2 linked regions of the Homo sapiens genome follow. The protein of the gene in region 1 interacts with the protein of each later gene in a pairwise test. Each region holds a gene or a part of one and is shown on either strand. Other genes may lie near its edges.

What was found.
Region 2: the proteins of ZNF619 (region 1) and TULP3 interact in a two-hybrid assay, tested with the Homo sapiens proteins (one large-scale study listed by BioGRID and IntAct).

What each region holds. Positions count from the first base shown.
Region 1 is NC_000003.12:40,475,716-40,480,159, forward strand, and holds the start of ZNF619 (zinc finger protein 619), read left to right. Parts: upstream 1-1,406; 5' UTR 1,407-1,642; intron 1,643-2,202; 5' UTR 2,203-2,242; coding exon of another isoform or gene 2,243-2,264; coding exon 2,265-2,288; intron 2,289-4,444. UniProt on the Homo sapiens protein: May be involved in transcriptional regulation.
Region 2 is NC_000012.12:2,935,858-2,939,047, forward strand, and holds part of TULP3 (tubby-related protein 3), read left to right. Parts: intron 1-1,773; coding exon 1,774-1,872; intron 1,873-2,256; coding exon 2,257-2,428; intron 2,429-3,190. UniProt on the Homo sapiens protein: Negative regulator of the Shh signaling transduction pathway: recruited to primary cilia via association with the IFT complex A (IFT-A) and is required for recruitment of G protein-coupled receptor GPR161 to cilia, a promoter of PKA-dependent basal repression machinery in Shh signaling.

The sequences.
Region 1 (4,444 bases):
GGTAGCAGGCTTCAGAGAGAAACGATTGTAAATGTTTCTTACCAGACTTCAAAAGGTGCCAAACTCTTAGTTAATTCTCTACTGGATCAAGGAAAACACTTTGAAAGTGAAGGGGATTCTTTACAGGATGTAGATTTTCTTCACAAAAGACAGCTTTACAGGGTCATTTCAAAATATGTCAAAGAAATACATTTTAGGGTAAAATACTTCAGTTTATTTCAGGGCCTGTTATCTGTCACATGAGACTATACTAGAGTCAGGTTAGAATTTGATGTCTTATTGCTATAAAGAGTTTGTTTTGGGCTGGGCGTGGTGGCTCACGCCTGTAATCCCAGCACTTTGGGAGGCCGAGGCGGGCGATCACGAGGTCTAGTTCAAGACCAGCCTGGTCAACATGGTGAAATCCCGTCTCTACTAAGAATACAAAAATTAGCCGGGCGTGTTGGCACGTTCCTGTAATCCCAGCTACTCAGGAGGCTGAGGCAGGAGAATTGCTTGAACCCGGGAGGCGGAGGTTGCAGTGAGCCGAGATCGGGAAACTGTACTCCAGCCTGGGCTACAGAGTAAGACTCCATCTCGGAAAAAAAAAAAAAAAGTTTTAGTCAGTCTCAAGATCTCTGTTTTAATGTTAATGCTGGTCCGTAGTGCCTGAATTCCAAGGGCATAACGAGGCAAGTCCGATCCCCTGCTTCCCATCATGGCCTGAACTAGATTGCCAGGTTTTCTTTGGAATGTTTTGGCTGAGAGAAGTGGTCCATTCAGTTGGTTGGGGGACTTAGAATTTTATTTTTGGTTTACAAAACTGTTGCATGAATTGACTCAGTTAATTCACTGAATTTATAAATTACAAACTTTTACCATTCTCAACTGATAAATTGAGGCAACGATTTAAGTATAACTTGAGCAAGTCCATATAGAGTGGAGCCAGGAACGCAGACAATGAGACACCATACCCCATGGTCTTAGGTCACAGTCATTCAGTGGGAGACAGGGGCTATAAATTCATTAGAAGGTTAAGTTAGGAATTAAGTAATTAGGTAAGGAATTAGGAATTCAGTTAATTAAGTTACAAATTGTTAAATATGGAGGAATTTATCATGTAGTTGGGGTACTAAGACATAAGAGAAAATAATAAAGAAAAACAGGAGCGGCCGGGCGCGGTGGCTCACGCCTGTATTCCCAGCACTTTGGGAGGCCGAGGCGGGCGGACAGCTTGAGCTCAGGAGTTCGAGAACAGCCTGCGCAACATAGCGAGACCCCCGTTTCAAAAAACACACGAAAAAATTAAAATTAAAAAACAAACAAACCAGGCGCAGAGCGGTTGTGGAGAAGGGAAGCGAAGGGTTGGAGTTTCGTTTCGTGGGAACCATAGAGAAGGGCCAGCCTCCCGGCTTCCTAGAGAGGCTGTAGGGACCGACGGCCGGCCAGCTAATGCTTCCGTCTTGGCCACCTTGCGAGCGCTCGGGTTGAGTTTCCCGGGCTTCCCTGACTCGGCTACCTGTTCTGGAGGTCAGGCTTTGGGCCCTTGCAGAGGTCGCCGAGGGGCCCGCGCCGCCGCCAGAGCCTGGGCCCAGTCCCCAGTCTTCAGAGACGCCCTCGACCTTCCTGCTCCGAGGAGCTGGCCTGATGTCCTCGGGTCGCGGTATTCATGGGGAGGATGGGAGCCGTGACTATAGGGTCTCCTGCTTCCCAGGGTGGAGCGTTCAGATCCCGGTTAGGTCTTCGGTCAGCATCACCCGCTGGGACATTAAGCGTCTTACCCTTGTCACCCGGGGCTGGGTCACCACTTATATTTTGTCCTGCAGCCTGTGGTTTGTTTAGGGGTCCCCGTTATATCCTACTTTCTCTCCAGAGACTTGTTTTGGGTTTTTGCCATGAACACTAGAAGCATTCAATACAAACTGTTTAGTAATGCATTCATAGTGGGGCCAAGAATTTTTTTTAAAAAACAGCCACGAATCCACTGCAGTTCTTGACTCTTACTTTACAGATATTCTTTCTAGAGTTTCCAGTGTCACCAAGCAGATCTATAGGAGAATATGCAGAGGGAGCATTTGCAACATCCCATGAATCAGTGGAGAGGGTGAATGACAGCAGCTAGTGTGCCAAGAATATCTGCAATGCTAGTGGCAGGAGACAGAGGGGAAGAGGCGGCAAGTGTAGGAGACGAGACAGATCAGTCTCATTGTGGTTCTCTCTTAGCTCCGCAGGTTCTTACTTTTTCAAACCTAGAGGGCAGTGCATGAAGCCAGGGGTCATCAGCCATGCTCCAGACAGTGTGGTTCCAGGTGAGCAGAGCTTTCTTTCAGCTTTCCATACTCAGAACAGATATGGAAGGTCAGTACAGCCCCAGTAGCCTGACTTGGCCAGTCTCATGCTTAGTTTTACATCCTTCAATAAAGTATGTAAAAACAGTATGCGAGGGGAGTTGACGAACGAGAGTAGGTGAATTTGGGAGAGTCAGGTAGGTTGGAAAAGAAGGAATGAATTATCCTAGAAAGTGGGAATCTGCATTCATGAGAACTGAAAGTGTGGCCTGGAGATGAGCAGCTTTTGCATTACAGAGGGCTCTTGTTAGGCAAAATGTCAGGCCCCCTCCCCAGATCTCCTAAATCAGAATCTACATTTTTACAAGATCTGGAAAATTAAAGGGCAGATTAAAATTTGAGGAGTGCTAGTCTGCGTTCACAGTACACAAAGAAAAGCCATTTCTGAGGTTAAATAGACACTTCCAAGGGAGGAGTTTACCCTGCAGACCACTCAGTTAAGGTACAGTGAAGCCAGAACTGGAAACATGTGGAAAATGTAGATTGATGAGGGAGATGTATTTTTGGAGGAATGATGAGTTTGGAGCTGAAGCCAGTGCCTTTAGCTCAATGCGAAGACGTCAGTCTAACCTCTGTGAGAGTCTATATCCTTTCTTGGCTACAAATTCATGTAGCATTGGGAGGACTTTTCCCTCCAGTTTTCTTGGTGGTAGATGATGGTTTTACTGGATTTTTCTCCAGTGTCCTAGATCATGGAATGAGAAAGCTGAGTTTATCATGTAATGGATGTATCTTGTAATGAGAAAGCTCCATCCCAAGGACTTAAAAACAATGTGTGTGTCCTTTTGGTGGATATTGGACCATCCACTTCTGTTCGAGAACTTCAGCAAAAATTCATTCCTACAAGTCAGGAAGTGTGCTGTGGGGGTATGCTGTGCTCTCCTGGTGCTTTGCCTGAAGTACAGAAATCACTTAGGATTAGATTCCCCAAAGAGGACCCCAAATGACAGTGGATTAAACGAGGTAAAGGCTTCTCTCTCATACAAAAGTATCAAGAGTCAATACAGGGCTAGTGTGGCAGCTCCCCTATTATGCTCTCAGGCTCTGTCTTTCTGCTCTACCATCCTAGCAGTGTCTCACCTGCTCTAGGCCACTTTATTGTCCAAGGTGGCTGCTTGATCTCTAGCCATCATGTGTGCATTCCAGCTAGAAGAGGAGCTGCCCAAAAAAAGATGAACCTCTCTCTTTTAGGAACCTTCCCATAAGTCCCCAACAATATTTATACTTGCATTTCATTGGCCCCACTTGGTTGCCCGGGTTGAGTGCAACCTCAAGTAAAATTAGGATTCCAATACTAAGAAAGAAAGGGGGTACACACACACCTGTCAGTCTTTGCTACAATCTCTAAGAGGAACATTTGTCATTTAGAATCTTCTAGGAAGTTCCCCCAATCTCATCTGTGGTTGTAGTAAGTGCTGAGATTTAGATGATATCATGTGCCAGGTGATATCTTCGTGCGTTACAGATAATAACTTAATGCCATTCTTGTAAGAGTCCTTTCAGATAATTACTATTGTTATCCCAGTTTTACAAATGGGGGCAACTGAGGCACAGAAAGTTTAATTGTCTCATCCAAAGTTAACAGCTAATGAGTATTAGAGATACTATTTGAACTTAGGGAGTCTAGCTTAGAGCAGGGTTTTTCAACCTTGGCATCATTTACATTTGGGCCAGATAATTCTTTGTTTGGGGGATGTCCTGTTCATTATAGGATATTCAGAAATGGCCCTGGCCCACTATCTACTAGATGCCAGTAGCACTACCATTACCACCACACTGCAGTTCTGACAACTAAAAATGTCTCCAGATATTGCCACATAGTCTCTGGGGGACAGAATTGCCCCCATGTTGAGAGCCATAGCCTTAACATCTGTGCCATTTGCCACTATGTTGTGCTGCCCCTGTAACCCACTTCCTATAGAAGGGAGTCAATAGCCCCACTTAATGGAGAAAGAGTAAGTGCAAGTAAAGGACAGAAGAGTGATCACAGATAGAGAAGATCTGGAGAAGCTAAGTGTTTCAGAAAACAAGGAACCAAAGAATGTGCTGATAATTAGAGTGATGTTTCAGAGGTATGGAGAGGTAGAGCATAATGTCAAGAAAAGTTGAGGTCCATA
Region 2 (3,190 bases), on another chromosome or scaffold:
CTGGGGGCACTGAGGCAAGAGGATCACCTGAGTCTTAGGAGGGTCGAGGCTGCAGTGAGCCGTGATCACACCATGCACTCTAGCCTGGGCGACAGCATGAGACCCTGTTTAAAAAATAATAATAATCGGCCAGGCGTGGTGGCTCACGCCTGTAATCCCAGCACTTTGGGAGGCCGAGGCCGGTGGATCACCTGAAGTCAGGAGGTGGAGACCAGCCTGGCCAACATGGCAAAAACCCGTCTCTACTAAAAATACAAAAAAAATTAGCCAGGCGTGGTGGCAGGCACCTGTAATCCCAGCTACTCGGGAGGCTGAGGCAGGAGAATCGCTTGAACCCAGGAGGCAGAGGTTGCAATGAGCCAAGATTGTGCCACTGCACTCCAGCCTGGGTGACAGAGCAAGACGCCATCTCAAAATAAAATAAGAATAATCTGCTTGGCTTGACAGGCATTTTTAATACCTAGTGCAGGCCTTATTTAACCACAACTAATTTTCACTGTATGTAATATAGTGCTATGCCCTCACTGGGAAATAAATATGTGTTGGTGCTGACAAAGTTGAACAGTTTGTTCACAGTTATCTCAAATCACATTTAAGACTCAAGAGTAAGAGGCCGGGCGTGGTGGCTCACTCCTGTAGTCACAGCACCTTGGGAGGCCAAGATGGGCGGATCACCTGAGGTCGGGAATTCGAGACCAACATGGAGAAACCCCGTCTCGACTAAAAAAAAAAAAAAAATACAAAATTAGCCGGGTGTGGTGGCGCATGCCTATAATCCCAGCTACTCAGGCTGAGGCAGGAAAATTGCTTGAACCCGGGAGGCGGAGGTTGTGGTGAGCTGAGATTGTGCCATTATACTCCAGCCTGGGCAACAAGAGTGAAACTCTGGTCCCAAAAAAAAAATAGTTAAGAGTAAACTCTCAAGCCAAGAGATTCTGTTTTAAATGTAGGTGTTTAAAGAAGGTATAGGCCAGGTGCAGTGGCTCACGCCTGTAATCCCAGCACTTTGGGAGGCTGAGGCAGGCAGATCACGAGGTCAGGAGATCGAGACCATCCTAGCCAACTTGGTGAAACCCCGTCTCTACTAAAAATACAAAAAATAATTAGCCAGGCGTGGTGGCATGCGCCTGTAGTCCCAGGCTGAGGCACAGGAATCGCTTGAACCCAGGAGGTGGAGATTGGAGGTTGCAGTGAGCTGAGATTGTGCCACTGCACTCCAGCCTGGCGACAGAGCGTGACTCTGTCTCAAAAAAAAAAAGAGAAGTATAAAGAGATATAATATTACTTTCCTGTTTTTGATTCTGTTTACAGCAAAGTAATAAAATTATTTTTGGTACACCTGATTTTTTTTTTTTTTTTTTTTTTTTTTTTTTTCTGAGGCAGAGTCTCACTCTTGTCGCCCAGGCTGGAGTGCAACGGCGTGATCTCGGCTCACTGCAGCCTCTGCCTCCTGGGTTCAAGCAATTCTCCTGCCTCAGCCTCCCGAGTAGCTGGGATTACAGGCGCCTGCCACCACGCCTGGCTAATTTTTGTATTTTTAGTAGAGACAGGGTTTCACCATGTTGGCCAGGCTGGTCTCAAACTCCTGACCTCAGGTTATCTGCCCACCTCGGCCTCCCAAAGTGCTGGGATTATAGGCGTGATCCACTGCCCCGGCTGATACAGCTGATATTGTCAGCATCTTACATTCCCAAGAAAGTCTCATGTTATAAAAGAATGTGGTCTCTATTTTTTTCCTGTTTCCAAGTTCTGCTTTGTTTTCCTATCTTCCAGGAAACAAACGTACTTGGATTTAAAGGTCCTAGGAAAATGTCTGTGATCATTCCTGGAATGACACTGAATCATAAGCAGATCCCCTATCAGCCACAAAACGTGAGTAAGAATGTATTTAAATCAGTGAAAGACTCTAAAAGACAGTAGTACAATACACAGAGATTAATACAAAAAAAAAAAAAAAGATTGAGCTTCCAGAGCCCCACACTGGAGATAGCTCCATACACTTCTTTAGGAAAGCTGCCCCTCCAAAACCTCAGGATAAGAGCAGTTGCAGAGTCATTGCCTTGAAACCATTTTTTCTACAAAGAGAAATGCTGGATGATGTAGAATAATTTTAAAAAAAACCTGTCTTCATTGTTGGCTTTCATTCTTCGCTTCTGGTTTACCCTTTCTGAAATGGAGAAAGTATTCTCCTACTCTACCTTCTACCTCGTAGAGTTGGAGTTCTCAGTACAAAGTAATGATTTTCCCTTTGGACAGAACCATGACAGTTTGCTCTCAAGGTGGCAGAACAGAACTATGGAAAATCTGGTTGAGCTGCACAACAAGGCCCCCGTCTGGAACAGTGACACTCAGTCCTATGTCCTCAACTTCCGTGGCCGGGTCACTCAGGCGTCTGTGAAGAACTTCCAGATAGTCCACAAAAATGACCGTAAGCCTCCAGGAGGGGTTGGGTGGGAAGAGGAGGACAGATGCTCTTACAGGATGGGAATGCACATTCCCTGTACATGATAGGAAGTGACAGTCAGCAGATAATCATGGAGGAGAGACAGGATTTCTTTGGAAAGATGAAACTACAGTTTTAGAGAAAACTTGTAAATCACTGTGTTGAGGAGGGGAGAGGAGTGTGAGAGAGATGCTATAGCAAATCAGAGAAGTTGGCTGGGCACCATGGCTCACGTCTGTAATCCCAGCACTTTGGGAGGCCGAGGTGGGCAGATCGCTTGAGACCAGCCTGGGCAACATGGTGTGAAACCCCATCTCTACAAAAAATAGAAAAATTAGCTGGGCGTGGTGGCAGGCACTTGTAGTCCCAGCTACCCGGGAGGCTGAGGTGGGAGCATCACTTGAGCCAGGAGGTCGAGGCTGCAGTGAGCTGAGATTGCATCACTGCTCTCCAGCCTGGGTGACAGCAAGAACCTGTCTCAGAAAAAAATAAAAAATCAGAGAAGTCATAGAGTAGGTTGTTTGGGAAACAAAGGCAAATGACCCCAATAAAGGTTCCTGGCAGCTCTAGCCTGCGGAGTTTATGACATTCCCAGCAAGCTGCTCTCTATTCTACAGAAACCTGGTGATTAACTGGCCTATTTGGAGGATTCTTTCTGTATCATAAATAGGATCCCAGCACTTTGGGAGGCCGAGGCAGGAGAATCACTTGAGCCTAGGTGTTTGAGACCAGCTTGAGCAACATAGT